7 linked regions of the Homo sapiens genome follow. The protein of the gene in region 2 interacts with the protein of the main gene of each other region in a pairwise test. Each region holds a gene or a part of one and is shown on either strand. Other genes may lie near its edges.

Region 1 (4,242 bases), on a different chromosome or scaffold from region 2:
TAAAAATTAAAAATATTAACTTTTCAATATAAAATGCACAGTCTGCAGCTTATGATGGTTCAATTTAAATTCTTTTCAACTTTACGACGGTGCAAAAGCAAGCATTCAGTAAAAACTCTACTTTGAACTTTGAATTTTGCTCTTTTCCTGGGCTATCGATTTGCAGTATGATAACTCTTGATGCTGGGCAGCCATACCATCAAGAGAGTAAACAACCAATGCTCTAAAGTGTGCTGTGTTGCCAGCATCTTTTGGATGCAGGTATTCGATAAATTATATGAGATATTCAACACTTTATAAATATTTTATGTTTGATGGTTTTATGTTTGATGATTTTGCCTAATTGCAGGCTAATGGAAGTTTTCTGAGCACATTTAAAGCAGGCTAGGCTAAGCTATGATGCTCTGTAGGTTGGGTTTATTAAATGCATTTTCCACTTATGATATTTTCAGCTTACGGTGGGTTTATTGGATGTAACCCCATTGTAAGTGCAAAAGCATTTGTACTTAAAATATACTGGAAATAGACTGGATTAACTGCTAAACAGATGACAATCATTTGAAAACAAAACACAAATTGTATGTTTCTGAAATTTTAAGAAGGCGAATTGGTTACAGGGTTTGCCAAAGGGGGTGATTGAGAATATTATCTGGCTATTTAAACCACCAAACTAATTTGCCCTTTATAAATAACCTCCATAGTTTTTTTTCAATGCATAATATGCATTTTAGATTGCTTATATCTACCTACTGTGTTCTGTCTACTACTAAACTAATTATCTGAAGAATATGGACTGCATCTTACTTTCCAGCTCCCACACTGTTCAGCAGAAAAATATAAAAGTACCAACACTGATTCAAGAAGAAATATAAAACCAAAAAACCAATTACCATTAAAGAAATCAAACTAGTAATGAAAAATCTACCCCTGTTAAAGACACCAGGCTCAAATGTTTTAAAGAAACCGCTAGTCCCTACCAAATGGTTTCAGAGATTAGAAAAACAGGTTAGTTACCCAACTCATTTTATGAGGTCAGAATATCCTTGAAACCAAAAGCCAATAATGATACTATAAGAGTAGAAAATTTATAGGCCAATCTCATTTATGAACACACATACAAAAATCATTCATTAGCTAATTCTACAGTACATATAAAAATCCATAGAGAACAAGTAGGTTTTATCTTAGGAATGCTAGGATGGTTAAACATTAAAAAAAAAAAAATTTGTCAATAGCACCATATTCACCAGATTAAGAGGAAAAAATTCTATGAACATTTCAATAGATGTAACAGATGCAGAAAAACCATTCAATAAAATTCAACATTTATGACTTTTTTAAAAATTAGCAAACTAGTAATAGAAGAGAACTTTATAATGAAAAAAAGGTTTCTGAAAAACCTACAGCAAACATCATGCTTACTGATAAAATGTTAAAATGCATTCCCATGAAAGACAGGAACTATGTCTTCTGTCAGTAAAAACTTCAGGCTTAGCATGAATGAAATATTTCAAGGCCAAGAGACAGACTCCAAGGCCCAAATGTCAGCTGTCCCCAAAAGAAGGTAAAATACATCTGGGCTTCCCTCAAGTGTCTGTACTGTTCATTGCAAACTTTTTCTGGTGGGAAATATTTAGTATGTAATACTAAGTGGACACAGGAAAAAAAGCAGGACACAGAATGATATCTATGCTCTGATTAGAGCTATATTAATTTTTTTTAAATATATGGACAAGGACTGCAAACAAGCATGGAAAACTGGATACATAAAAACTTGTGGAAACGTGGGTACAATTTCCTTTTTCCTTGTTATTTTAACATTAGCAGAATATTTTAAAAGCAAGCCCATGACAAAGTCTGTTTAGGTGTTTTGATTTATATCTTAAGCAGGACAGCTTTCTGCTTTATAACAGCAGTCTGCTGTAAACAAAAATGTTTAGGGGAATTTTCCTAATTACCTTAAAGTGACTTGGAAAGTGGGAATATAAAGAAAAGAATAGGAGGAAAAGGAGGGTAGATATAGTTATCGTTTACTCTGATGATAGCTAGGAGAAATAATTACCTCCTCTAGCTTGGTAAATTCTTTACGAAATTCTTCTTTTAGGCCAGCATAGTCTTCTTTATTTTGGCTTCTAATAAAGCTTCCTACCAAGGATGGCACCTAGACAGAGAATAATTTCTTAGTTTATCAGTTTATGGCTAACTGTATCGGCCCCCTCACATAAAAATATGGTAGAACCCTTACAGTCCTGGTGTCAAGGTGTTCTAGAAACACCAAGGGTGCATCAAGTTCCTGCGCTCACAGAGGTAATGGACTGGTCTTAGGAACAGTTTTGTGGCCTAAAATGCTGGCTTGGTCAGGATTTTATAAATTACAAATAACAGAAGCTACCCTGGCACGTTTAAGAAACAACTTTCTTTCTTTTTTGAAATGGAGTCATGCTCTATCACCCAGGCTGGAATGCAGTGGCACGATCTCAGCTCACTGCAACCTCCACTGCCCGGGCTCAAGCAATTCTCCTGTCTCCGCCTCCTTAGTAGCTGAGATTATGGGCGTGCGCCACCACGCCAGGCTAATTTTTGTATTTTTAGTAGAGATGGGGATTCACCATATTGGCCAGGCTGGTCTGAAAACTCCTGACCTCAGGTGATCCATCTGCCTCAGCCTCCCAAAGTGCTGGGATTACAGGCTTGAGCCACCACGCCCGGCCAACACAACTTTCTTTAAAGGAGACTGAGTGGCTCATAGAATTATTGGGAGGCGGAACAAACAGGCTTGGAATTAAGACAGAACATCCCAAATTCATGCTGAGAAATGGCCTAATGGGAAGCACTCACTGCTGCCAGTCCAAGCTGAGCACCAGATGCTTCAGTTTGTGAGGCTGCCAGAAAGTAGAGTCTGAGATAACTGCTAACACCACTGGCACTGATGCCATTTCTACTCTGGAATTTTATCTTGTAACCCACACTGCTGAAACCCAGAAGCTCTGCCGCTGCTCTCACCAGGAAAACCAGTGGAGAGCTGAATATCTTAAGCAGATATCCCACCAAGCCTGTTTCCTTACCTTGCTCGTTTCTGATTTGAACTCTATGTGTGTGTCTGACAGGAAGAGCCTAGGTCACAAAACTTGGCCCCAACTGCAAAGAGCTAGGGAAGAAAATTTTTCTGATTTCTTTGTTGGGGAGGACACCAGGAGACTGTTCAAAAGGGACCGACTACCTAAAGACTTGATGGGTGTAGCATCAGATGCTTTAATGCTCGTGATGGTGTTTATGTGTTTTAATACTTTGGTCTTTGGTATCATTTTATTGCAAGACGCAGAAGTCCACTCATCCTAGTTTAAGTAAACAGGCACTTGTAAAAATATAGAATCCCATGAAATCCCATCCACATCAGTTCAGCCTGCCTTCACTGGGACTGAAGGCTTTCAGGCAGCCCTTTCATCCACATTTCCACCTGGGTCTGCCTGGTCTTTCGTCTGTTTTTCCTCACATTTCTGCTCCATATTACTTTGCATACTTCAGTCCCTTTGCAATGTTTTTAATTCTTGCTCCTCTAAAAATTTATTTCTTAAGTGGCTTTGGTTTTTCTAGCCTCTAATTAACATTATTTGAGCCCCAACGCTTAGTTGTCTTTACTGTCCTAACCTTTACTGTCTTAGTTCTGTGTCTCATTTCCAAGTTCCCAGGAGAGAAGATAACTGGCCCAGGTGTGTGGGGTGGGGTACATTTCTGTTCTGATGGGCTGTGGCCAGGAGAGCAGGGTCATATGTACATAAAGCCACCTCTCCTTTAAAACCCAAGCAGGGAAGTAAAGGTGGGCATCTTCAGCATTACTTTTAAATCTCATTTTCTTTCTAGATAGTACAATGAATCTCTTGTGACTACTTTTTAAAGTAGTAGCTTTATGCATGAAAGTAAAGCTTCATGTCTAAAAGCTTTACTTTTAAAGCTCATTTTCTCTGACGTGTCCTACAAGTCCTTTCACGATCCAGTTCCTGTTTACCTCTCCAAAGTTACCCCTTTTATCTCTTCTCCTGACACTTTATATTCCAGCCATACTAAAAAAAGTTTTCCAGAACTGGCACCAGACCAAAGAGATTTTTCTTTAAGAACCACTTAGGCTTATTTTTTTTGGTTGGTATTGATGACTTCGTGTCTTGAAGCTGCATGCCTTTAACTTGTTACTACTTTGTAAAACTCTCCCACATCGTTCTTGAAAATGTCATGTTCCCTTTACAT
Region 2 (4,242 bases):
ACAAAGAACAAACAAACAAAGGGATGCTATGAGAGGCAAAAAATTATGGCTCCAACTCCTAAGAGCAATAAAAGAAAGTTCTGGGATGCCAGTTGTGCAATAGGCCTAAAAGATAACCAGCATCTACTGGAGCCGGAAACAAAGGGGACTTGGAGGGAAACAAAGGGGACTCCATTGTATAGATACTGACTGAGAGAATGGAAAACTTGAGGATGTGATAAAAGCATACAATGCAAGAAAAATATTGGCTAATAGAAATGCAATAAATAATAAGAAAATAAAAATGTGTGTGATTTAAAGCAACTAATGAAAATAAAGAGAACTTGATGCTAGGAACATTTTCCTTTGACTTCTGCTGGACACATAACACTGACAATGTCAATGTATAACTGACAAATGGCAGGAGACTGTCTCTACCTGAAGAAAATACTATTTAAAAAAAAAACCCAAAACCACCTATAATCCCAGCACTTTGGGAGGCTGAGATGGGAGGATCACTTGAGGTCAGGAGTTCAAGACCAGCCTGGCCAACATGGCGAAACCTTGTCTCTATGAAAAACACAAAAAAATTAGCCGGGCACGGGGGTGCGTGCCTGTAATCCCAGCTATTCGGGGGGTTGAGGCAGGGGAATCGTTTGAATCTGGGAGGCGGAGGTTGCAGTGAGCTGAGATTGTGCCCCTGTACTCCAGCCTGAGTGACAGAGTGAGACTCCATCTCAAAAAAACAAAACAAAACAAAAAACCACACACACACACACACACAGCCCCAAAACAACAACAAAACAAAAAAATCCTCTGTGACCACAATGTAAGTGGACAGCATAAACTTAAATGATGTAAAGTATAAATTGATAGACAATGGCATGGTTAAGAAGACCATAATCATAGACAGCTTCTGAAATTCGGATGTGCACAAATAATTCAGCCCCCTTATAAAAGGTGAAATACAGAGACAAATGATTAGTGTTTTAAAAGAAATGTTTATGTATCTTTACATTGCACTTTAGGGTAACGGAAAATAAAACACAATAATATTGTATTGGAAAATGTCCTGCCTCTTAGAATTTTAAACCAAGATTTCTTTTCTGTTATTTTCTACATAAGAATTCTTACATTTGATGAGAGAATACAAATAGAAAATTTATTAATAAAATTCCATAAAGGCTTGCTATTAAAGTTGATTATTGTAAAATAAACAACTGATAAACATTAATAATAAAAAATAAGAAGTCCTATGTGTCAGACACTGATATTTTTACATGTATTCTCAAATATTCCACTTTATTTCTACCCTTTCTGCTCTACACCAAAATCCCTTGAAATAGATGTAATTAATTCCAATCATAAATGAGAAAACTGAGGCTTAAAGACATTAAACAGACATCCTTTAATTCATAGAGCTAGTATTTCCTAGATCTCTGACTCCAAAGTCCATTACTCTTTCAACATATGATTATTCATCTTTACTGAACACCTGTCACACGCCGTTTATAGATGCCAGGAGCCCAAAGGTAGGAGAAAAGCAGAAACCTATGCATACAAAATAAAATTCTAAATTTCAGTAAATAATTTCAACTACATCAGACAATAAAAAAGTTAATCTGAAGAGAAACATAATGCCAGGCAAAAATTACAGGTAAACAATTTTTTATTCCCCAAATGGGATTTGTTAACATATGCCCAGTGATGTAGTTAATAAAGTCTAGGGATTTTCTGCTATTCATATATTGTAGAAATATGGACAAGGTAGCAAAAACAACAATTAAAAAATGGCATAACTGCTCTGTCTCAAAAAAAGCCTAATATTTAAAAAACATCCTGAAAAATGTTAAGCAGTGATTGAACAATTTGTACTTTTTCTTTACTATAGTTTCTAGTTTACCCTAGAAAGCTCCTTTTTCTAGCATTCACTTATAAAACATTTCTACCACTTCTACTGTTATTCATATTGCTACCATTATTCATATTTTTCCAATTTTTATACCATTATTCATATTTTTTCCAATTTTTCAGATTGAACGAATGAAAAGTGGCAGATATAGAAAAATTATATAGAAGTGAATAACAAATTAAACTCAAACTATATACCAAAAGACTAAATATTAATTGGTAATTTTAAAATCATCATGAAATCATGAAATGATACAAAAAAAGAAGATAATACATTTCATAGTCATTTTAAGAAGTGTATATGACAATGCAATAAGCTGTTCTATGACAAAAAAAGACTGCTACTGTCAGAGACCTAGATAATACACCACCACCCTTGTGCTTTGGGAAGGAAAACAATAATAAAATTTACAAAGCCACACAAATCTTGATCAATGTTTCACAGATAACACTGCCATGACTTAGTTTCATAAAGTGCTACAAAGTAGAGAAACTATTACTTTATATTGACTTTGAATTTCTATACTTCTGAATAAAGTGCAATTACTTACTTTTTTCTCCGATTTGACTCCACAAAATATTTACGTGCTCGATTTCGACATATTTTTTGTTGCTGCAGTAATATCTGGCGCTCTTCTTCTAAATTTTTCTCCAGATGGATTTTCATATCTCTAATGATAGCATTAAGTTAAGAACAATGGTCTACATCTTTAGTGGATGACTGTCAGTGCTATATGATAAATATAACTACAGCCTCATGCAAATGATGTAATGATAGTTTTTGTGGAATAATTAGTATGTGCCCACATTAGTATATGACTGGCAAACATTTTATGTAAAAAAAATTCGGGGCTGGGTGCGGTGGCTCACACCTGTAATCCATCACTTTAGGAGGCTGAGGCAGAAAGATCACGAGGTCAGTAGGTCAAGACCCGGCTGGCCAACGTGGCAAAACCCCGTCTCTACTAAAAATACAAAAATTAGCTGGACGTGGTGGTGCATGCCTGTATTCCCAGCTACTTGGGAGGCTGAGGCAGGAGAATCGCTTGAACCCGGGAGGCGGAGGTTGCAGTGAGCCAAGGTTGTGCCATTGCACTCCAGTCTGGGTGACAAGAGCAAGACTCCATCTCAAAAAAAAAAAAAAAAATTCTGACTTGGTATTAGAAAGTAAGATATAGCTCACTTTTCCTGGAGAAAAAAAATCTACTTTTAGAAATCATGAGCTCAGGCTGGGCGCGGTGGCTCACACCTGTAATCCCAACACTTTGGGAGGCTGAGGCGGGTGGATCACCTGAGGTCAGGAGTTTGAGACCAGCCTGGCCAACACGGTGAAACCTGTCTCTACTGAAAACACAAAAATTAGGCGGGCGTGGTGGCGGGTACCTGTAATCTCAACTACTCAGGAGGCTGAGGCAGGAGAATCTCTTGAACCTGGGAAGCAGAGGTTGCAGTGAGCCGAGATTGCGCCACTGCATTCCAGCCTGGGCAACAAAAGCGAAACTCCATCTCAAAAAAAAAAAAAAAAAAAAAAAAAGAAATCATGAACTTCAGATAAAGAGGACTGTATATCTTCATTCATTACACAGTTTTTTTTTTTTTTTTTTTGAGACAGAGTCTCACTCTGTTGCCCAGGCTGGAGTGCAGTGGCATGATCTTAGCTCACTGCAACCTCTGCCTCCTGGGTTCAAGTGATTCTTCTGCCTCAGCCTCCCAAGTAGCTGGGACTACAGGCATGTGCCACCACACCTAGTCAATTTTTGTATTGTCAGTAGAGACGGGGTTTCACCATGTTGGTCAGCCTGGTCTCGAACTCCTAACCTCAGGTGATCCACCTGCCTCGGCCTCCCATAGTGGTGTGATTACAGGCGTGAGCCACCGTGCTTGGCCTCATTACACAGATATTTGAGTACTTACTAACAAGTTGCCCTCATAGTCATGAATATAAGAAAATGAAATAAGAAGATTGTATTTTACTAATAGAAAGTAGATGGAGTAAATGTTTCACCAGATCCCTTAATCTATAGTAGGAAAGTACATTTTCAAATATTAAACAATCAAATAGCAATATAACTAGAATGGTTAGGAATACAGTTTAGTTATTTACTTAGTGACTTAGTGGTTATAAAAAACCACTAGGAAAACTATGTATAGTCATCTGTGTATCCAGAAGCTTGTCAGAGAAAAAGAGGAATATTTTGGTTATCCTAATCATCTATTCACTTGAAATTTATTTTATAAAATTAAACTCTCCTTAAATAAGTTGTAGCAATATGAGTAATTTCTCCAATTTATTTAGTTGCGTTTTAATTGACATTATTAAGTATCTTTATCAAATTTGTCAGAGTAATTTTC
Region 3 (4,242 bases), on a different chromosome or scaffold from region 2:
TGCTTACTCACAGGGAAGTTTAGACATTAAAAATGTTACAAGTACGAACTCCTTCAAGAGGCTTTAAAAAATGATAAAATATTCCCCTCAAAAACCATTTTATTTTAAAGGAAGACAAAGAGTATTAACTGTTAAACACTGAAATTTGACAAGTTATGACTCAAAATGATTAAGTATAACAGTTTTATTTTCTATTAGTGATATTTGTAATCTTTACTTTGCCTTTATGACTTTGCACTCAGTTCTTGGTTTACAACAGTACTATGTAGAAACACAAAGGTTGCCATCACTAGTTATTTTTACCTGCTACAGATATTTTTTACCTGCCATATTTACAATGTTGAGATTCAAGTTTAAATATGTTACTGAGCATTTGCTAAATTACCCAGATTTATTCATTCATTCTTTTAAGAAATAATCGTGTGGCAGGCATTCAGGATAGTGAACAAGGCATACAAAATTCCCTCTCTCATGGAGTTTATAATCTAGAGATAATTAGCAATGCAGATAATTAAGAGTGGAATCAGGGCCGGGCACAACGGCTCATGCCTGTAATCCCAGCACTTCGGCAGGCAGATTACGTGAAGCCAGGAGTTCAAGACCAGCCTGGTCAACATGGTGAAACCCCATCTCTACTAAAAACACAAAAATTAGCCGGATGTGGTGGCACACATCTGTAACCCCGAGCTACTCGGAAGGCTGAGGTAGGAGAATCTCTTGAACCCAGGAGGTGGAGGATGCAGTGAGCCAAGATTGCGCCACTGCACTCCAGCCTGGGCGACAGAGTGAGACCCTGTTTCAAAAAAAAAAAAGAAAAAAGAAAAAAAAAGTGAATCAGGGCAACTTTACATTACATAGTAAGGGCTGACCTCTCCGCTGAAGTGACATTTAAATGAAAGCTGAAATCTGAGGACTCAACCCAAGAGCAGTGAGGGGTAAACAACTCAAAAAAAAAAAAAAGGCAATAGCTGGTGTAAAGCCCATAAGGGAGGACCAGTATAGTCAAGAACAAGGCAAAGCAGTTTGAGGTGAGGTCAGAAGCTTGGCAGGGGTCAGGTCACATAGGGATCTACAAACCCAAGGATGGAGCTCAGATTTTGTTGTAAATAAAATCAGAAGCTGTTGTATGGTTTTTAGCAGGGCTGTGGCATGACCTTTGGTGTGTTATTCCACGACCACTTAGACGCTGAGTGAAGAATGAATGGCATGAATGGCAACAATGGAAGCAGGCAACCCGGCCAGAAGGCTACAATACTTGTCTAGGAGTGATGATGGTGATCTGGACTACAGTGCCAGTAGCAAAGATACATGCTTTGTAGTCTAGTTCTTAGAACTTATTAATGAGTGAAATGTGAGAAATAAAGGGAAGATATTGACTAAAAGTTCTAGATTTTTGGTATATAAAGAAACCAAAAATATACCAAAAATCTTTGGTATATAAAGATTTTTGGTGTTCAAGAAACTGAATGCTATTATATTTACTAAATAAGCTAAAAAAAATCGTAAAAGAATATTTGGTTAACGGACAGGGAATCCACTCTTCTGTCTGTGTTAAGTTTGAGAAGTCTATTAGTGGGCAGTTGAACACAAACCTAGATTTCATGGGGGAACTAAGGGCTTGGTGTAGTGTCATGGGGCACTTAGATGTTTAGAGGTCTAAAACAAGTGAGGTCTTCTAGGAAGTGTGCAGACAAAGCAAAATCTGGTAGTAAATGTGGCAAAGAGAGTAATGATAACTTGATCTTTCAAACTCTGAATACACTAGGGTGGAAAGAATAACAGGAATTCATTTAGTTCATTCTTTTTTAACAGGGACGGGGCAGGGCGGGAACTAGATCTAAAATCTTCAGAAAAGAATAAACTACTACTACTATTAATTGCTAAACAGGACAAATCTTCAATAGCTAAGCACACTCTTGCAGACAGAGGAGTCCAGAGTCCTACCTCAGTCATGGTCATCATTTCATTACGACATTTATCCAATTGATTCTGTAATTCATTTTGACTCTCTACTAGTTGTAAACCATACTGTGCAGCTTTTAGTCGCTCTTCTTCAGCCTCTTTGAGCCTGCATCGAAGATTTGTGATTATATCTGCCTCCATGTTCTTTTCTTTTTTTTAGCCAACTGTAAATAGAGGAAATAAAACTACTTAAGCTTATACAAAAAACTCCATGCAATAATATCAATAACAGAAGAAACATATCTACTCAATACTACTGTCGTATAAAAACATTAAAATTTTCTTCCTGACTAATAAGTAGTCAAATTTGCATTCTTGTTCCAAGAGCAAGAACTGTTCTGACAATTCTGTTACTGATTTGGGATCAAAAATTAAAGAGTGGAATAGAATACATTTAATTTTGCTTCTAAACAGTTCACCATCAGAAAACTGTTCAGTTGTTGTATGCTAAGCTTCCAATATGTTAAGGTAAGTTTGGTCTCATAATTGGACCACTATCCATATAATCAAAATTAAGGGAATAACAAAAAAGTAATCAAGAAACCTCATAGTAGCAGGTATGGTGGCTCATGCTTGTAATCCCAGCAACTGGGGAGGATTACTTGAGGCCAGGAATTCGAGACCAGCCTGAACAACATAGCAAGACTCCATCTCAATCAATCAATCAATAGAAATAAGGTGGGGATGGTGGCAAGCCCCCGTAGTCCTAGCTACTTGGGAGGCTAAGGAAGGAAAATTGATGGAGTTAGAGGCTTCAGTGAGTTATGATCATGGCACTGACAGAGCAAGACACTGTCTTGAGAAATAATAATGATAATAACAATAATACCACCAGAAAAGGAAGGTCTGGGTACTATAAACACATAAAATATAAAAAGGCAGCTGTGAATAAGGCTCATAAGGTAAAGTAAGAAATATCATGTCTGTAATTTTTCACAACAGTGTTAACTTCCTGAATATATTAAATCTGCTTTCCTGGAAAGAGATTCACTAGTATTTTTCTAGTTATTCATAAAAGTATGCAAAAATAGAAACCATATCCATAAGAATTAAAGGATGTTGCTTTCATTCTAGATTTATAAACAAAGACTTAAACATTATATATAGAAACATTCCACTTTAATCAACCTTACTAATTATCCTTTACTATTTGGTCCCAGCCTCCTAAGCGAGACTCAAACTCACCTTTGCCTTCAAAGGGCACCAGGTCATTGCAAGATGTTCCCCCATGTCTCAAGTCAATGTAGTCATTCACTGAACGAGTATTTCTTGAATGCCTTATATACTAGGTTCCATTCTGGGCAGTTCAGATTCATTAGGGAACAAAATGGACGAAAAAAAAGCTCCTCCCTCATGAAACTTACATTCCAGGAGGGGAAGATAAACAGTAAGTAACAGAATATTAATAAATTAGAAAGGGGAGATGAGAAAAAATAGAACAGAATAAGAATCTGGGAAGAAGGGACAGGTGATGTAACCAGGAGGCAGAAGATGAGAGAATCAGCCAGGCAGCTATTTAGAAGAAGAATGTTCCAGCAAGAGGGGAATCCTTAAGGCAGGAAGAAGCCCAGGGAGTGAAATTTGGCTAAGAGATAGTAGAGAGTGGGCAAATCAGGCCATTATAAGGACTTTGGCTCCTACTTTGGGTGACATGGGAAGTCATTCCAAAGTCTGGAGTAGAGGATCTGATATAATTTAAAAGAATCATTTTGGCTGCTATGTTGACTAGTTTAGAAGGGGAACAAGGCTGGAAGCAGAGACCATGTGAAATGGCTCAGACTAGGGTGGCAGCATAGGAGGCTGTGAGAAATGGCCAGATTTTGAAGGTTTTGAAGGTAAGGTCAATATGATTTTCTGAAAGATATAATTTGGGATGTGTGAAAAAGGGAAAAGTAAAAAATGCCTCCAAGTCTTCTGGCCTGAGCACCTAGTAAAATGGAATTGCCATCAGCTGAAGCACTGATGTAAATAATGTTTTGGAAATAAAATCAGGAATTTGAGTTTTGAACATGAACTATGTCAAGTAGGCAATTGGATATATGAGAAGAGGAATCTTGGCTGGATATGCAAATTTGAGAATTATCAGTCTATAGAGGATAAAAGTATTTAAAGAGAAATGGACCAACGACTGAACCCTGTTATGAGGTAGGGAAGAAGACAGCGGAGAATCAGGAGTGACCAGTGAGGTAGAAGGAAAACCAGGAGTATGTGTTGTCCTGGAAGGCAATAAACAGTGTATTAAGGAGGTGGGAGTAATCAATCATGCCAGATGCTGCTGCT
Region 4 (4,242 bases), on a different chromosome or scaffold from region 2:
CCGGGTGCGGTGGCTCATGCCTGTAATCCCAGCACTTTACAGGGAGGGGAGGCCAAGGTGGGCAGATCATTTGAGGTCAGGAGTTCGAGACCAGCCTGCCCAGCATGGTGAAATCCTGTCTCTGTTAAAAATACAAAAATTAGCTGGCTTTCAAAGGATTTCAATTATGTAATGTTCTTTGACCACAACAGAAGTCAACTAAAAAATTAAAATTAGAAAGGTATCTGAAAAATCCCAAATTATTTGGAAATTGAGACACATACTTCTACATAAGTTATAGGGCAAAGAAGTAGCATGAAAAAAAAAATTCTAGGTCAGGTGCGGTGGCTCACGCCTGTAATCCCAGTATGTTGGGAGGCCAAGGCAGGCAGATCACCTGAGGTCAGGAGTTCAAGACCAGCCTGGCCAACATGGTGAAACCCTGTCTCTACTAAAAATACAAAAAAAAATTAGCCAGGCATGGTGATACGTGCCTGTAATCCCAGCTACCCAGGAGGCTGAGGCAAGAGAATTGCTTGAACCTGGGAGGTGGAGGTTGCAGTGAGCCAAGATCACACCACTGCACTCAAGCCTGGGCAACAGAGTGAGGCTCCGTCTCACCAAAAAAAAAAAAAAAAAAAAAAAAATTCTATTCCAGCACTTTGGGAGGCCAACGTGGGTGGATCACTTGAGCTCAGGAGTTTAAGACCACCCTGGGCAACATGGTGAAACTCCATCTCTACCAAAAATATAAAAAATTAGCCAGGCATGGTGGCATGCACTTGTGGTCCCAGCTACTTGGGAGGCCGAAGTGGGAGGATCTCTTGAGCCCAGGAGGTGGAGGCTGCAGTGAGCCAGGATCATGCCACTACACTCCAGCCTGGGTGACAGAGTGAGACCTCATCTCAAAAAACAAGAAAAACATTCTAAAATATTTTAAATAGGTAAACGAAATAAAAATTTAAAACAATATCAAAATTATATCAAAATCATAATATATCAAAATTTGTGGAGTGCAACAAAGATAATAATTAGAACAAGGAAGATATAAAAATCAATTATGCAAGCTACTTCCACCTTAAAAAGCTAGAATAGTATAGGCAAAGTAAACCTGAGTAGAAAACAGGAAATAGAGAGTAGAAACAAATGCAATAGCAAACAAAAAAATAGAGAAAACAATAAAAATAATGAAACTAAAAGCTAGTTCTCTAAAAAGATCAAGACGGCCAGACGCAGTGGCTCACGCCTGTAATCTCAACACACGGAGAGGTTGAGGCAGGCGGACTGCTTGAGCCCAGATGTTTGAGACCAGCCTGGGCAACATGATGAAACCCTGTCTCTACAAAAAATTAGCCAGGCATAGTGGCGCATGTCTGTGGTCCCAGCTACTCGGGAGCTGAGGTGGGAGAATCACTTGAGCCTGGGGACAGGGAGGTGGAGGCTGCAGTGAGCCATGTGCATGCCACTGCACTCCAGCCTAGGTGACACAGCTAGACCCTGCCCTCAGGGAAAAAAAAAAAAGGATCAAGACAAAATGAGAGAAACATAAATTACCAGTATCAGGACTGAAAGAGGGGTCATCATAACAGACACATCAGAACCATAATAATGCAAAATTATTAACAACCTGATGTCAAAAAAATCTGACAACTTACATGAAACAAATTTCTTGAAAGACACAGATTTTTTCCAAAACTGACTCGAGAAGAAATAGAAAGCCTGAATACTTCCATAACTTTAAAGGAACTGAATGCAACATCAAACTGTACACTTAGAATAACATTTTATTGTATGTAAATTATTCCTTAATAAAGTTAATTTAAAAGGTTAGAAAAACAACAGGACTAAACTATAATGTATAGTGTCTAGGAATGCACTATAAAACTATTAAAGAAACAAGGAAATAAACACTATAGAAATCTGGATCATGTTTATTTGGGGGCAGGAGGAGTTTATGATTTTAACAGGGCATATGGAAGGCCTTCCAGCAGCAGTTAATCACTGACTAGGTGCTACTTACAAAGATCTTCACTTTACGGAAATTAATTAAACCATGTTTGTTCTGTGCGGTTTTCTGTATCTGTGCACTACTTTACAATACGAGAATGTTGGGATTTTTTTTTTTTTTTTGAGACGGAGTTTTGCTCTGTCACCCAGGCTGGGGTGCAGTGGTGTGATCTTGACTCACTGCAACCTCCACTTCCCGGGTTCAAACAATCTCCCTGCGTCAGCCTCCCGAGTAGCTGGGATTACAGGCAGCTGCCAACTACTCAGCTAAGTATTTTGCATTTTTGGTAGAGACGGGGTTTCACCATATTGGTCAGGCTGGTCTTGAACTCCTGACCTCAGGTGATTAACCTGCCTTGGCCTCCCAAAGTGCTGCGATTACAGGCATGAGCCACCTCGCCCGGCCAAAAGGCTAAGCACTAGCTAAAAAACTGAAAATTGGGGCTGGGCACAGTGGCTCACGCCTGTAATCCCAGCACTTTGGGAGGCCAAGGCAGGTGGATCACGAGGTCAGGAGATCAAGACTATCCTGACTAACAAGGTGAAACCTCATCTCTACAAAAAATAAAAAAAAATTGGCTGGGTGTGGTGGCATGCACCTGTAGTCCCAGCTACTTGGGAGGCTCAGGCAGGAGAACTGCTTGAACCTGGGAGGCAGAGGTTGCAGTGAGCTGAGATCGCGCCACCACACTCCAGCCTGAGGGACAGAGCAAGACTCCATCTCAAAAAAAAAAAAAAAAAAAAACTGAAAATTGGGTCGGGTGTGATGGCTCATGCCTGTAATCCCAGCACTTTGGGAGGCCGAGGCAGGTGGATCACCTGAGGTCAGGAGTTCGAGACCAGCCTGGCTAACATGGTGAAATCCCATCTCTACTAAAAATACAAAAACTTAGCCGGGCATGGTGGTGCGCACTTGTAGTTGCAGCTATCCAGGAGGGTGAGGCAGGAGAATCGCTTGAACCTGGGAGGCAGAGGTTGCAGTGAGCCGAGATGGCGCCATTGCACTCCAGCTTGGGCAACAAGAGCGAAACCCCATCTCAAAAAAAAAAAAAAAGAAAATTGTCCCTTTTTTGTCAAGAAGAACTCTTTTTTTCTCTTTATTTTTTTTTTTTGAGACAGAGTCTCATGCTGTGGCCCAGGCTGGAATGTAGTGGTGCGATCGTGGCTCATGATCCTCCCAGCTCAGCTTTCCCTAGTAGCTGGGACTACAGCCCACACCACCACCCTCAGCTAATTTTTTCTATTTTTTGTAGAGATGGGGGACTCACTTGGTTGCCCAGACTGGTCTCAGATTCCTGGGCTCAAGTGATCCTCCCGCCTTGGCCTCCCAAAGTGCGGGAATTATAGGCATGAGCTACCGTGCCCAAAACTTACACTCTTTGACCCTCCCTCTGTGAGATCATCTCCACAGAGGCTTCGTGGCATTTCAGCATTTTCTCTTTAGTCTAAATGTCACTCCTCTGAGGTAATGCTACGATCTCTTTGGAGGGTATACAACACCTTTGGCAGGGAGGGTGTCAGTGGGAGAATGCTTTAAATAAAGTATCTCAAAAAACTTCAAGTTAAATGACATGTCTATTTAATAAATGTGGCCACATAATTAACAATGAATATATGCACACTATATGTTGACACATAAAATAACTGACAGATATACAGAAATCTAGCTACTTAAAGAGTGGTCTACATTGGCCTCTGTCAACAACACGTTGCTCACCATCCTCCTGTCCCTAGTGGGGCAGCACACACTGTGGCTAAGAGGACAGGCACTGGAGTCAGACTCCAGGTGCAGCCCAGCCGCACCACAGCAGCCCTAAAGCCTGGGCAGGTCCCTGCGACACTGAAAATGCCCCTGACAACGGCACCCCCTCAAAGGCTGCGGTGAGGACAGGCTGACGACAGGCGCGCAGCGTAAGAATCAGAATACCACCCGGCACACGGGGTGCACTTCACTCGGGTCAGCTTCCATCAGTGTTCCTACATCCGGGATACAGGCTATGGGTATTCGTTCTTTTGGGAAAAAGAGGGGAAAGCCTCTTACCCTCCTTTGTGCTTCTTTTTCTTTGGTGTGTCTTCCTCTGATGTCCTCCTGCCTCGGCCCCGGGACCCTCTTTTTTCTTTCTGACCCCGGCCTTCTGAAAAATAATCAAGATGCAAATTATTTTTATAGAATTCTCTAAAGCAAGGCAAGTTTTGTGTTTTGTTTTTAAAAAGGGGTCTCGCTCTGTCTCCCAGGCTGGCTGGAGTGCAGCGGAG
Region 5 (4,242 bases), on a different chromosome or scaffold from region 2:
ATAGTTTACAGTGAAGGTTGCAGTGAGCCGAGATCATGCCACTGCACTCCAGCCTGGGTGACAGAGCGAGACTGTCTCAAAAATAAAATAAATTTCACTCTTGGTGGTGTTCATATGTTTTTACTTTCTTTGTGTTTTCTGTAATTATCCAAAAGTTTCATATTCCAAAGTTTTAGTGACACAAGCTTAGTACAGTATTTGAATGAAAACTTAAATAATTTGCATTTCTTCATAAGCAACCAAATTTTATTTGTCAGCATTAGGAATTTATTTATTAATTTATGTTTTTGAGACAGAGTCTTGCTCTGTTACCCAGTCTGGAGTGCAATGGCGCAGTCTTGGCTCACTGCAACCTCTGCCTCCTGTGTTCAAGCAATTCTCCTGCCTCAGCCTCCCAAGTAGCTGGGATTACAGGTGCCCACCACTACACCTGGCTAACTTTTTTATTTTTAGTAGAGAGGAGGTTTCACCATGTTGGCCAGGCTGGTCTCGAATCCTGACCCCAGGTGATCTGCCCACCTCAATCTCCCAAAGAGCTGGGATAACAAGCATGAGCCCTCGTGTCTGGCCTGGAATTCATTTTTGATACATCATTCTCTAACTTTCTAATCACTTTATACTTTTACTTATTGTGTAATAGTCAATAATACAATTATATAGCAGGAATTAATCCTATTCATACAACTTAACGGTTTCTACTAATGTAAAATGCCCATGCAGAATATTTACTTTAAAGGAAAACCAATTGAAAACAAATATCAGTGTTCTCAGAGCAGACATAGTGAATGGTATATACTGTAGTAGAAATATATTTTAATAGCTACCCAAAATGTCTGTTAAACAATATTTTAAGTACACTTTAATTACGGTTTTAAGGACAGTAAAAATCTATTTACATTTTTAAACAATGAATACTTTTTAAAAAATTGTAATTGAATGACCCAGGAACTCAGTCATGTAGTCATTGGTTCATCAGATATTTCAGTGTCATCTGTAAGGCATTAAACATTTAGGCATATCATCTTTGATGTGAAGTACTTAGAAGTTAATTAGATGATAAAGATATTTTATCCTTTTGACCTTGATATGTTTATAGTAATTTATTTAACAGTGTAAGAAAGAGCTTGAAATTTGCTTTATTAGCATAGTTATAATCTTATTTAATCTGAAGGATGTTTCTTAATTTCATATTCAGAAACATATCCTAATTTATCATTTAAACACTGATATAAAAATATGTCTACTTAGTAACCTATTTTTTCTTAAGGTATTTACTATGCAGGATCTATTACAACTCATTAAAATCAACCCTACTTCCAGTCTCTACAAATCACTGGTAAGATGGCTTAGTTTCTGTAATCTACTTTGGTTTGTTAATTATAACTGAATAGCTGAATAAAAGTGAAATATTTTCTTTTAACAGGTTTCAGGATCTGATAAAGAAAATCAAAAAGGTAGGAGCCGTCATCTTTGTAGAGAACAGCAACAGTTTTCTATGTACTTTTTCCTCTAAAAGAATGAAGCAAATTTTTAGGGAGAAGAGTAAAATTTAATTTGATTTAAATTATTTGATTTCTGCAGGTCATTTCCCCTATATTTCCATTTTTGTAATAACTTTTAGATATTCAATTAAAAAAACTGTAGACAGTATCAAAGGCCCTACAGACAGGCTGAAAGATACTGTTTGTAAAAATACCCACTGTTGGGAATATTTCTGCAAAAAAAAAAAAAAAAAACTAATAACTTTTAGGCCAAGTGTCTTTGTATACTAGGTATCCCTCTCAAGTATAATTGGTAGGGTATTAGATGTATTAATATTTCCTTAAAGAATGAGAGTTGTGTTCAGTAATGTGTTATATATCTTTTGTTCTTAAATGTTTATACAGGCCGGGCGTGGTGGCTCATGCCTGTAATCCCAGCACTTTGGGAGGCTGAGGCGGGTGGATCACCTGAGGTCGGGAGTTCGAGATCAGCCTGACCAACCTGGAGAAACCCCGTTTCTACTAAAAATACAAAAAAATTAGCTAGGCGTAGTGGCGCATGCTTGTAATCACAGCTACTCAGGAGGCTGAGGCAGGAGAATCGCTTGAACCCGGAAGGCAGAGGTTGCGGTGAGCTGAGATCACGCCATTGCACTCCTGCCTGGGCAACAAGAGCAAAACTCCGTCTCAAAAAAAAAAAAAATGTTTATATAGACCTAATAAATTGCCTTAATTTTGGCCTTGATAATAGCCATTCATAGAGTCCATAACTACTGTGGGTTTCAGGCCATTGGTTAGACTTGATGATGGGCTTTGTAGCATGAACATAAGCTGGCAACTTGGCTTTGATGCATAGTTATTCTTTAGGTCTTTTAAAATAATCTGTTAGTAATAGTCCTTTTGTGTTGGTACACCCTTGGATTTTGTCTGTTGCCTGCACTATCATCCCCACAAGGACATTCATTTATTCATCCATTCATTCGCCAATTCATTTAGAACTTAATCATTTGAATACTTATTTTCTGCCAGCCATTAAGTCTGTGACTTAATCGCCAAGTCTCTTGGTAGTAATGTTAGCAGAATATAAATAAATTGGAGCACAAGATATTCTGGACTGCCCGCAAACTAGACCATCTCTACTGAAGTTCAGTATGGTAAATGATCCTATATTCTGTACTCTAAGTGTCGTCCAGTGTGACTCTCTGTGATTATGGAAATGTCTGTGTCTATGCTGTTTAATGTGGTAGCTGCTATCCTCATGTGGCTTTTGAGCCTTGAAATGTGGCTAGTGTGACTGGATAACTGAATTTTTAATTTACATTTAATTAGCTACACTTGCATAGTGACTACCATATTAGCATAATTCTGAGGTATATAGCTAGTATCTTTTGCTTAACTATTACTTCAAAAGGAAATTTGTGGCTTGAAGGGATATTAAGAAATAATCTATGGGCCAGGCACGGTGGCTCATGCTTGTAATCCCAGCACTTTGGGAGGGCAAACCTGGCTGATCACTTGAGGTCAGGGGTTCAAGACCAGCCTGGCCAACATGGTGAAACCCCATCTCTACTAAAAATACAAAAATTAGCCAGGCGTGGTGGTGAGTGCCTGTAATCCCAGCTACTTGGGAGGCTGAGGCAGGAGAATCGCTTGAACCAGAGAGGCGAAGGTTGCGGTGAGCCAAGATAGCGCCACTGCACTCCAGCCTGGGTGACAGAGCTGGACTCCATCTCAAAAAAAAAAAAAAAATCTATGTAGTTACTATAGATACATTATCCTTAAAAGTAGTTTTTCCATGGCCGGGCGCAGTGGCTCACGCCTGTAATCCCAGCACTTTGGGAGGCTGAGGCGGGCGGATCACGAGGTCGGGAGAGCAAGACCATCCTGGCCAACATGGTGAAACCCCGTCTCTACTAAAATACAAAAAAAAGTTAGCCAGGCCTGGTGGCGTGCACCTGTAGTCCCAGCTATTTGGGAGGCTGAGGCAGGGGAATCGCTTGAACCCAGGAGGCAGAGGTTACAGTGAGCCAAGATCACGCCACTGCGCTCCAGCCTAGCGACAGAGCAAGACTCCGTCTCAAAAAAAAAAAAATAGTTTTTACACAGTCTCTTTAAATGCATCTGGTTCAGAAAGACATCTGGCCGACAGCCCTTACCAGCTTCACCTAGCATCCCAGTAAAATTTCTGGAAGCCAGAAAAACTATGAGTAGCAGATAGGTCAGGCATCCTAGTGCCAAAATTTGGATAGAACTCTTAGCTAACAAAATAGCTCCTGGTAAGATAAAATTTTTTTAAAAATTGGTGTCTTCTAATTAAGTAACAGAAAACATGTAGGAAGATATTGTGTACTTAACCGTTGTCTGTCCCCTGACTCAGACCTATGGTCTTATCCTACCATATCTATGCTCAGGGGGTGCTAAGCTGTTGAATGGCCTTGGTACTTTTCCTCCTAGATTCTAGTCACCCATTCTTCCCACTGCTAATTTTCCTTTCAGAGATAATGATATCTGTTATGCGTGTCTGTGTGAAGAGACCACCAAACAGGCTTTGTGTGAGGAACAAGGCTGTTTATTCACTTGGGTGCAAGTGGGTTGAGTCCGAAAAGAGAGTCAGTGAAGGGAGATAGGAGAGGGGCAGCTTTATAGGGCTTGAGTAGGCAGTGGAAAGTTACAGTTAAAGGTGGTTATTTATTGTTAGCAGGGGAGGGGGTCCCAAGGTGCATGGTGGAGAGATCTTGGGACTCATTGTCCAGAAGAAGAA
Region 6 (4,242 bases), about 24 Mb from region 2:
AAGAAAAGGGAGGTGGGGGAGAGGAAAAGTCTCTTCCCTTATTTTCAACGGGGAGAATCAAGCCTCTCATTTAAAATTTGTATTTGTGCTTAGTCCATGCAGAAGCCATAAGGGGTGAAGCTAACATTTGAAGCCAGGTAGGTTAACTCCAGAGGCCATCCTCTTAACTCTCTGACACAGGTTTATAGTAATTATGACTGTGCACAAGAAACGGCTGGATGAAGCATGAAATGAAAAAGTGTAACACAGCAAAGGCAGAACAATTCACCAGCCGTAGGGTATCAAATGCCCACGCTGCAGAAGGGGCCCCATCCTAGGAGTTGATCCACCCATGGGGAGATGGGAACTTAGAAACAGGGGAGGGAGAAGGTGGGTTGGTCAGGGTTCAAAGGTCAACTGCGGGTTAGAAGTGGTGAAAGCAGAGGCAGAATCTGGAGGCCTGCATCCTGCAAGTCAGACTTTGGCTTTGAATAGCAGCGGCAGGAGGTGGCCGGCAGAGAGTCTGCTCGGTGCTGAACTGGACTTGGCTGCCTCGCTGCATTCCCGACTGCCCTTGTCAGGCCCTTCCCAGCCACACAAAGGTCCCAAAGATAGACGCGTTCAGCAAAAGACTTGTGAAAACAGCTGAAATGCAGAGTGAAATGGCAAAAAAACAGAAGGGGGAGAGGGCAGCTCCAAAGAGCAGAATAAGGGGAAAGCCCAACCAAGTCAGCAAATATCCGGGCAAAGCAGAAACAAAGAGGAAGAGGGAAATGGATTCTGAGGTGAAAGTGAAGGACACCATTAGACGCTGTACATTTGAAAATAACTAAAAGAGTATAATTGGATTGTTTGTGACATAAAGGAAAAATGCCTTAGGGAGTGGATACCTCATTCTCCATGATGTGATTATTATGCATTGCATGTCTGCATCCAAACATCTCATGTGCTCCATAAACACATACACCCCCTATGTACCCACAAAAATTAAAAATTAAAAACCAGTCAATCAATTAATTCTTCCTCCCCTGCCGCAAAAAGATACCATTAGATGGAGACACATTTTAAAAGATGTTTCCCAAGTATATTTTATTTTTTCAAATTATATATATGTGTATATATATACATATATACACATATATGTGTATATATACATATATATGTGTATATATACATATATATATATATATATATATTTTTTTTTTTTTTTTTTTTTTTTTTTAAAGTAGAAACAGTTTCACCATGTTGGCCAGGCTGGTCTCGAACTCCTGGCCTCAGGTGACCCACCCACCTCAGCCTCTCAAAGTGCTGGGATTACAGGTGTGAGCCACTGCACCTGGCCTAAATTTTTTTTTAAGTGTTTAAAAGAATTTTTAATCAGAAAATGCTTAAAGGGTATAAAGTTTTTATTTATTTATTTATTTATTTATTTTTATTTTAAGATAGAGTTTTGCTCTTGTTGTTGCCCAGGCTAGAGTACAGTGGTGTGATCTCTGCTCACTGCAACCTCCGCCTCTCAGGTTCAAGCGGTTCTCCTGCCTCACTCTGCCGAATAGCTGGAATTATAGTCAGGCACCACCATGCCTGGCTAATTTTGTATTTTAAGTAGAGGCAGGGTTTCACTATGCTGGCCAGGCTGTTTTCGAACTCCTGACCTCAGGTGATCCGCACATCGCAGCCTTCCAATATGCTGGGATTACAGGCATGAGCCACTGCTCCTGGCCTAAAGTGTATAAAGTTTTAAAGCATGATTTAGACCTGTATACAAGTATAATCTCAACTATGAAAATATATAACATGTAAACAGAAAAATTTGGAATAAAATATCCAAATCTATTTTAAATGAAAGAAGTCTTAGGAGACTTCTTAAAGTTATATATTTCCCATGATCTCAGCTTCCCTTTTCTTTCCTTTGAAAGTAGCTGACTGCCGTATGCTAACCCGCTAGGCTTTATTTTTTCATGCATAGTCACCAATCTTCCAGGTTTCACATATTTTTGAATACATGCACTGCGACACAGGACCAGAGATGTAAAGAAGGGCTCAGATGGTCGGCTTTTTTGTTGTTGTTGCCGTATGCTATATCTTGATCAGTTCTTGGGAATAAGCACCAACGTCTCTATTGCTCTTCAGTATGGATGACAAAAACCTCCCTCCCATCACTTTTCCATCCCCAATTCTTGACCCATTTCACACAAGGAATCTTATGGACACAGATAGAAAATAGAAGGAACAAACCATCCCCATTTTTGAGAATAGAGTCCACAGACTTCCTCGTGGGCTGTTTCTTCTTCCTCCTTTGTTTCCTGAGAGGGGTGTTCTCTTCTGCAGTCAGTACACAGGCCCCCGCCTTCCTGGCGTGCTCGTAAATTGTGAAGGTCTTTCTTGGATCTTTAAGGAGTTGGAAGGGATCTCCTCTGAGGGGCAGTCCCATCTTGATTGGTGGTGGCCCCAGGAGCCTCCCCAGCGGGCTCTGGTGTGGATGCAGGTGTTATGCGGGAGACGGTCTTCCCCTGCAGGGCTGAGGCACATGTCTGGGTCTGAGCTGACCGAGCTGCTGGACCAGGTGGAGGGTGCCATCCGTGACTTCTCGGAGGAGCTGGTGCAGCAGCTGGCCCGCCGGGACGAGCTGGAGTTTGAGAAGGAAGTGAAGAACTCCTTTATCACGGTGCTTATTGAGGTTCAGAACAAGCAGAAGGAGCAGCGAGAACTGATGAAAAAGAGGCGGAAAGAGAAAGGGCTGAGCCTGCAGAGCAGCCGGATAGAGAAGGGAAACCAGATGCCTCTCAAGGTAGGTGAACAACCAGGTGGAAGACTGGGTGCCTCCAACCTCCAACCCTGCCCGTTTCAGTGCCCTACCAACCCTGCAGGGGACTCATCAACGTTTACCGAGCAGTGGTGGTGAGCAGCACACTGTGACAGACAGGGGGTCAGAAAGGGAGAAGATATCACCTATCTCCTCCACTCCCCCAAAGGGCTCACAGTCTAACCCAGGAAGACAGTGTGTACATTAGGAAATAATTGAATTTGGCTTGTGTTCTCTGTAGGCAAGACCTTAAAGAAAGTGGAGTGAGGGTATTTCGTGTTGGGAGTCTTGAGATGGGCCTCAGAATTCTGGGTCCAAATCCCTCCTTGTGTCCCAGGTTCCAGTCCTGACTGGTCTCTTTAGGGCGTGCTAAGGTGTTTCAGTGATTGAAAATGATCAGGTGCCTTATTATTATTGTTATTATTTTTTGAGACAGAGTCTCACTCTTTTGCCCAGGCTGGAGTGCAATGGTACCATCTCGGCTCACTGCAACCTCCGCCTCCTGGGCTCAAGCAATTCTCCTGTCTCAGCCTCCCTAGTAGCTGGGATTACAGGTTCATGCCACCACTCCTGGATTATTTTTGTATTTTTAGTAGAGATGGGGTTTCACCATGTTGGCCAGGCTGGTCTCAAACTCCTGATCTCAGGTGATTTGCCCATCTTGGCCTCCCAAAGTGTTGGGATTACGGGCATGAGCCACCGTGCCTGGCCCCAGATGCCTTATTGTTCTATTGTTCTATTTTTGGGTTTAACCCAAACCCCTGGTTCTCATGGTTCATTTTTTTTTTCTTTTTTTTTTTTTTGGTGAGATGGAGTCTCACTCTGTTGCCCAGGCTGGAGTGCAGTGGTGCGATCTCGGTTCACTGCAATCTCTGCTTCCCGGGTTCAAGCGATTCTCCTGTCTCAACCTCCTGAGTCGCCGGGATTACAGGTTCACACCACCACGCCTGGCTAATTTTTGTATTTTTAGTAGAGACGGAGTTTCACCATGTTGGTCAGGCTGGTCTCAAACTCCTCACCTCGTGATCTCCCCGCCTCGGCCTCCCAAAGTGCTGGGATTACAGGTGTGAGCCACTGCGCCCAGCCACTCATGCTTCTTAATCAGGGGAGCTCAGTAGAATTATCTAAGGAGTTTTTTTCAAAATGCCTTTCCCTAGGCTCTATCACAGACCTATGGAATTAGTTCTCCGCATGTACATTTTGAAAAAAACTTCCCCCATCAGGACAGTTGCTTTAAGACAGCCTCTTCTGATAGCTGAACATTTTGTTTTCCCCTAAGATCTTTGCATCATGGTTCATTTAAGTTTGACTGAACTGCTTTATTTTTCTATTTGCATGATGGAGGATAAAAGGAGGAAAACTGGGGGATGCAGAGGGGTCTTGTAGCCCTGAGGGACTTACTAAGATAAGAGTTCTTGAGACTCTGTTTATTCTTGCAAAGCTCAGGCTTCAATTCT
Region 7 (4,242 bases), about 24 Mb from region 2:
GAGATGAGCACTTCTGCTTGAGGAAAATCAAGGAAAGCTTTATGGGAGATAAATACCCTTATGGCAAAATTCAATGAAATTGTTGGTGTTTATCCTCCTCTGCCTCCTGAAACACCCAACACTGAAGTCCATCTTGCCTTTTCCTGGTTTTCCTCCCTCCCCTCTAGTGGGAGGTCTTCCCTGTTTCCTAAATGCTGAGGATCCGCAGGGCTCTCCAGTCTATTCCCTTTACATACTCCCTTCCCTTCCCACCCCATTCACCCCTAGATATTAAAATACCAACTAAACGCTAAGGACTCCCAAAACGCTACCTTCAGTTCAGATCTCGGTGGTGCTTCAGGCCCAGGAGATAGCCATGTAAGTTTCAGTCAGGCAGCCCTTCAATATTGAAAGGTACTTTCAGACTGTACTTCAAACTTAAAAACCAAAAAACCGTTCAACAACCTGCTCCTTATCCTAAGTTATACAGATCTCTGAATAGTAGAAATAAGCTATGTGATAATATTTATAGGCCATTATTTCTTTCTTTCTGTTTTAAGCACCAACATATGTATTTACTGATTTTGGAAAAACTGTCATATACTTCAGAATAATGTATTTGGATCATTTCTAAACAAGAGAATATGAACCAAAGGGAACCCAGGGAAGAAAGTAAATCTGTAACCTTAAACTAGCATGATATTCTTTTCAGGATATTCTCTTTTTCCTAATAAAAATTAGCCAAAAATTAATATTGTTTTTCTTTGAGATGGAGTCTTACTCTGTCACCCAGGCTGGAGTGCAGTGGCTTGATCTCAGCTCACTGCAGCCTCTGCCTCCCGGGTTCAAGCTATTCTCCTGCCTCAGGCTCCCAAGTAGCTGGGATTACAGGCCCACGCCACCATGTTTGGCTAATTTTTGTATTTTTAGTAAAGACAGGGTTTCACTATGTTGGCCAGGCTGGTTTCAAACTCCTGGCCTCAAGCGATCCACATGCCTTGGCCTCTCAAAGTGGTGGGATTACAGGCATGAGCCACTGCGCCCGGCCTACTATTCTCTTTGATCTGAAGATGAACTGAGAGCTGAAAAGCACTGTTTAGATCTGAAATAAGAATCTGAAAGCTCTTAAAAAAAAAAAGGCATTATTTGTCACAGAAGCCATCAGAACAACTACAAAGACCAGGTTTCTTAGGAGAAATAGCTCTAAAAACATGGTTTTGCCAAGCAGGTAGCATCAGTCTTTTTTGTTTGAGACAGTCTTGCTCTGTTCCCCAGGACGGCAAGATCATGGTTCACTGCAGCATCAAACTCTGGGGCTCAAGGGATCCTCCTATCTCAGCCTCCTAAGCAGCTGGGACTACAGGTGCGCACCACCACACCTGGCTAATTTTTAAATTTTGTTGTAGAGATGGGCTCTTGCTATGTTGACCAGGCTGATCTTGAACTCCTGGCCTTGTCAAGCAATCCTCTTGCCCTGGCCTCCCAAAGTGTTGGGATTACAGGCATGGGCCACCAAGCCCAGCCAAGCATCAGTCTTAAAAAAAAAGTGGCCAGTGAAAACAATTGAGGGTATTAAAAAAAAAAGAGAGAGAGAGAAAACAGAAAGCAGGTTAGGGAGACTAAAAACATACTTTCATAAGGAAGTGAAGGAGGTCAGTGGAAGACCAAGGAGGACTCTCAGGGAGCAGCCAGAAAGCTGGGCAGCCTGGGCCCAAGGGAGGCAGGTGGAGACTTCATTCAGAAAAAGAGAGCACCTTTCCCCCAGATTTGAAAGTAACAGATCACTGCAGGAAATATGCAGAAAGAGCAAAATGAAGCCCCCCTTCCTCCAACGTGGAGCTAACCACTGCTGACATTCGGATTTATGTGGAGAAAAGCAGTTTTTAAGAGGAACTCTCGGAATAAGTCTGAGTATCTTGGGTTCATGTTCATATCAATTCTAAAAACTTCATTCATTAGAGTTTGCCCCTGCTTTCACACCATAAATCTCCATACATATAAGCCCCCCCTTTAAAAAAAATTCTTCCTTCAATGTCTTATTAAAATTAACTTAAAAAAAAAACTCAAGCAGCTCGAGCTGCTTTTTTTTTTTTTTTAAGTTAATTTTAATAAGTACAGTAGTGCATGTTTTCTGCAGTAGAAGAAAGAAAGAAGCAGTCTATTTCTAGTGGCTGGGGGTAGGGAGGTGCTGGGGAAGAGCAGGAACCTAGGAAGAGTCAGCAGAGGGTAGCCACGCCCCAGCCCCATGGACGAGACTCCTGAGGAATCCATAAAACTGCGAAGTACTAAGTTCTGGCAACAGATCTCAAACCTGCTCCTTAGCAAGAGAGCTAAAAAGAGAGTGTTTCTTATGTACTCTGTTAATTTGACTCTTAAGGCATATAAACAATAGGGAGACCCTGTCTCTACAAAAATAAAAAACTTAGCCAGATGTGGTGGCATATGCCTATGGTCCCAGCTACTTGGGAGGCTGAGGTGGGAGGATTGCTTGAACCCAGGAGGTCGAGGCTGCAGTGAGTCATGATCATGCCCACTCCAGTCTGGGCAACAGAGAGAGACTCTCAAAAAAAAAAAAAAAAAAAAAAAAAAAAAAAAAAAAAAAAGATAAACAAGAGCTGAAGGATAAGCTTCCAAAATAAACGAGGAAAACAAGAAATCTGTGCTTTTCCTTATGTGATATTCCTGTGCTGCATTCCATGACACTAAGAATATAAAACATGATAACTTCTGTCCTTACGTGTTTACTTCTTAATCTTTTTCAAAGTACGCTATTAAAATGGCAACAGAGGAGTTTTTCTTTTTTCAAGGTATAAAACCAAGAATGTGAGGTGCAGGAGATAAGCATTCAATTTTTCAATGAATTTTTGGAGATGGAAAGCAAGCTTTAAATGCAGATCTGAAAATACGGATTGGCATAAAGTCTATTTAACTAATGCGCAAATTCTCTTCCTCACCTCCTATTTTCATCTATTTTCTCCACCCCCAAATCCAGAGGTTTAAAGAAAAATGAACCGAAATCTGAAATGGGTCTGGAGTAAAATACATCAGCAGGAGCAATGAAGAACTGAAAATACAGATTATGTCAAAAGATGCATACTAAAAGGTTCTCCAAGCCTCCATCCTTGTCCCAGCAACCAATGCACTGTCAGCTAAAGAAATATTAGCAAACATATACATTTGTACAAACATACACACAAAATCCATATATACCAGCCACCCTATAGTAATGGCCACCACCCAACAAGACCCACGCTGGGAACTTAAAATAACAAAAAACAAAACAGAAATGAACAGTCAGAATCATGAGACATTCAAAGAAATCCCACAATAAAATAATTCATTTATTCCTTAAGTTATTAAGCATCTATTCATCGCCAGGCACTGTTTCAGAGGCTGGAATTATAGAGGTAAACAAAAAAAAACCCAAAATCCCTGCCCTCATAGAATGTTTATTTTAGTGGTGAGGGAAACAAGTAAATAAATATGTGGGATGCTAGATGGTGGGAAATGCTTCTGGAGAGAAACAAAGCAGGGAAGTGAGATGGGGGTCTGCACTTCTCAATCCAGTGCTCTCTTCACTGAGGTGACATTTAAGGAAAGACTTGTGGATTCATCCAAAGTGAGGTGTGGGAGCAAGTCGCTGGATATCTGAGGGAAGACACATCCAGACAGAGGCACAGGTGCAAAGGCCCACATCACCTGAAGGAAGTGGAGCCTGTGCAGAGAGGAAGAAAACTCAAATACTCCAGCGGGCCCTCTGAGCCCACCATATCCACATAACAAGAATGGATATTACAAAAAGGTATCAAAGAAAAATTAAAGATTGAGCAAAAAATCACAGAAATAGTACAAGAAAACATCCCGGAACTAGAGGACGTGAATTTCCAGAATCAAAACCGTCTGTGAGAAGCCAGCACAACAGCTGAGTAAAAGACCCATACCCTGGTGTTAATACACATCATAAAACTGCAGAACACCAGAGATAGAGAATATCCTCAAAGCTTCCAGAAGGGGAGAAAACAAACAAAATACGGTCACGTAAGAAGGATTTAAATCACCACATCTCTAGAGCAATTACAGATGCCTTCAACATTCTGAGAGAACCTTATTTCCAATCTAGAATTATATAACTGCCAAACTATCAAACAAGTGTGTGGGCAAAACCAGGTCATTCAAATACTTCTTAGAAATAACTGAAGTATATGCTTTTAAAAAATAAAGACATAAGCCCAGAAAGAGGAAGATACGGTTCCTGCACAGGAA

What was found.
Region 1: the proteins of CEP126 (region 2) and GSTO1 interact in a two-hybrid assay, tested with the Homo sapiens proteins (one large-scale study listed by BioGRID and IntAct).
Region 3: the proteins of CEP126 (region 2) and SPDL1 interact in a two-hybrid assay, tested with the Homo sapiens proteins (one large-scale study listed by BioGRID and IntAct).
Region 4: the proteins of CEP126 (region 2) and ING5 interact in a two-hybrid assay, tested with the Homo sapiens proteins (one large-scale study listed by IntAct).
Region 5: the proteins of CEP126 (region 2) and OFD1 interact in a two-hybrid assay, tested with the Homo sapiens proteins (one large-scale study listed by BioGRID and IntAct).
Region 6: the proteins of CEP126 (region 2) and FEZ1 interact in a two-hybrid assay, tested with the Homo sapiens proteins (one large-scale study listed by IntAct).
Region 7: the proteins of CEP126 (region 2) and FAM118B interact in a two-hybrid assay, tested with the Homo sapiens proteins (one large-scale study listed by BioGRID and IntAct).

Annotation. Positions count from the first base shown.
Region 1 is NC_000010.11:104,260,898-104,265,139, reverse strand, and holds part of GSTO1 (glutathione S-transferase omega-1), read right to left. Parts: intron 2,162-4,242; coding exon 2,063-2,161; intron 1-2,062. UniProt on the Homo sapiens protein: Exhibits glutathione-dependent thiol transferase and dehydroascorbate reductase activities. Has S-(phenacyl)glutathione reductase activity. Also has glutathione S-transferase activity.
Region 2 is NC_000011.10:101,920,960-101,925,201, reverse strand, and holds part of CEP126 (centrosomal protein of 126 kDa), read right to left. Parts: intron 2,562-4,242; coding exon 2,442-2,561; intron 1-2,441. UniProt on the Homo sapiens protein: Participates in cytokinesis. Necessary for microtubules and mitotic spindle organization. Involved in primary cilium formation.
Region 3 is NC_000005.10:169,586,278-169,590,519, reverse strand, and holds part of SPDL1 (protein Spindly), read right to left. Parts: intron 3,322-4,242; exon of another isoform or gene 3,148-3,321; intron 2,148-3,147; exon of another isoform or gene 2,127-2,147; 5' UTR 2,104-2,126; coding exon 1,945-2,103; intron 1,922-1,944; exon of another isoform or gene 1-1,921. UniProt on the Homo sapiens protein: Required for the localization of dynein and dynactin to the mitotic kintochore.
Region 4 is NC_000002.12:241,711,857-241,716,098, reverse strand, and holds part of ING5 (inhibitor of growth protein 5), read right to left. Parts: intron 4,122-4,242; coding exon 4,028-4,121; intron 1-4,027. UniProt on the Homo sapiens protein: Component of the HBO1 complex, which specifically mediates acetylation of histone H3 at 'Lys-14' (H3K14ac) and, to a lower extent, acetylation of histone H4. Component of the MOZ/MORF complex which has a histone H3 acetyltransferase activity.
Region 5 is NC_000023.11:13,737,579-13,741,820, forward strand, and holds part of OFD1 (centriole and centriolar satellite protein OFD1), read left to right. Parts: intron 1-1,267; coding exon 1,268-1,336; intron 1,337-1,423; coding exon 1,424-1,454; intron 1,455-1,465; exon of another isoform or gene 1,466-2,635; intron 2,636-4,242. UniProt on the Homo sapiens protein: Component of the centrioles controlling mother and daughter centrioles length. Recruits to the centriole IFT88 and centriole distal appendage-specific proteins including CEP164. Involved in the biogenesis of the cilium, a centriole-associated function.
Region 6 is NC_000011.10:125,454,363-125,458,604, reverse strand, and holds part of FEZ1 (fasciculation and elongation protein zeta-1), read left to right. Parts: intron 1-2,498; coding exon 2,499-2,770; intron 2,771-4,242. UniProt on the Homo sapiens protein: May be involved in axonal outgrowth as component of the network of molecules that regulate cellular morphology and axon guidance machinery.
Region 7 is NC_000011.10:126,217,690-126,221,931, reverse strand, and holds part of FAM118B (protein FAM118B), read right to left. Parts: intron 1-4,242. UniProt on the Homo sapiens protein: May play a role in Cajal bodies formation.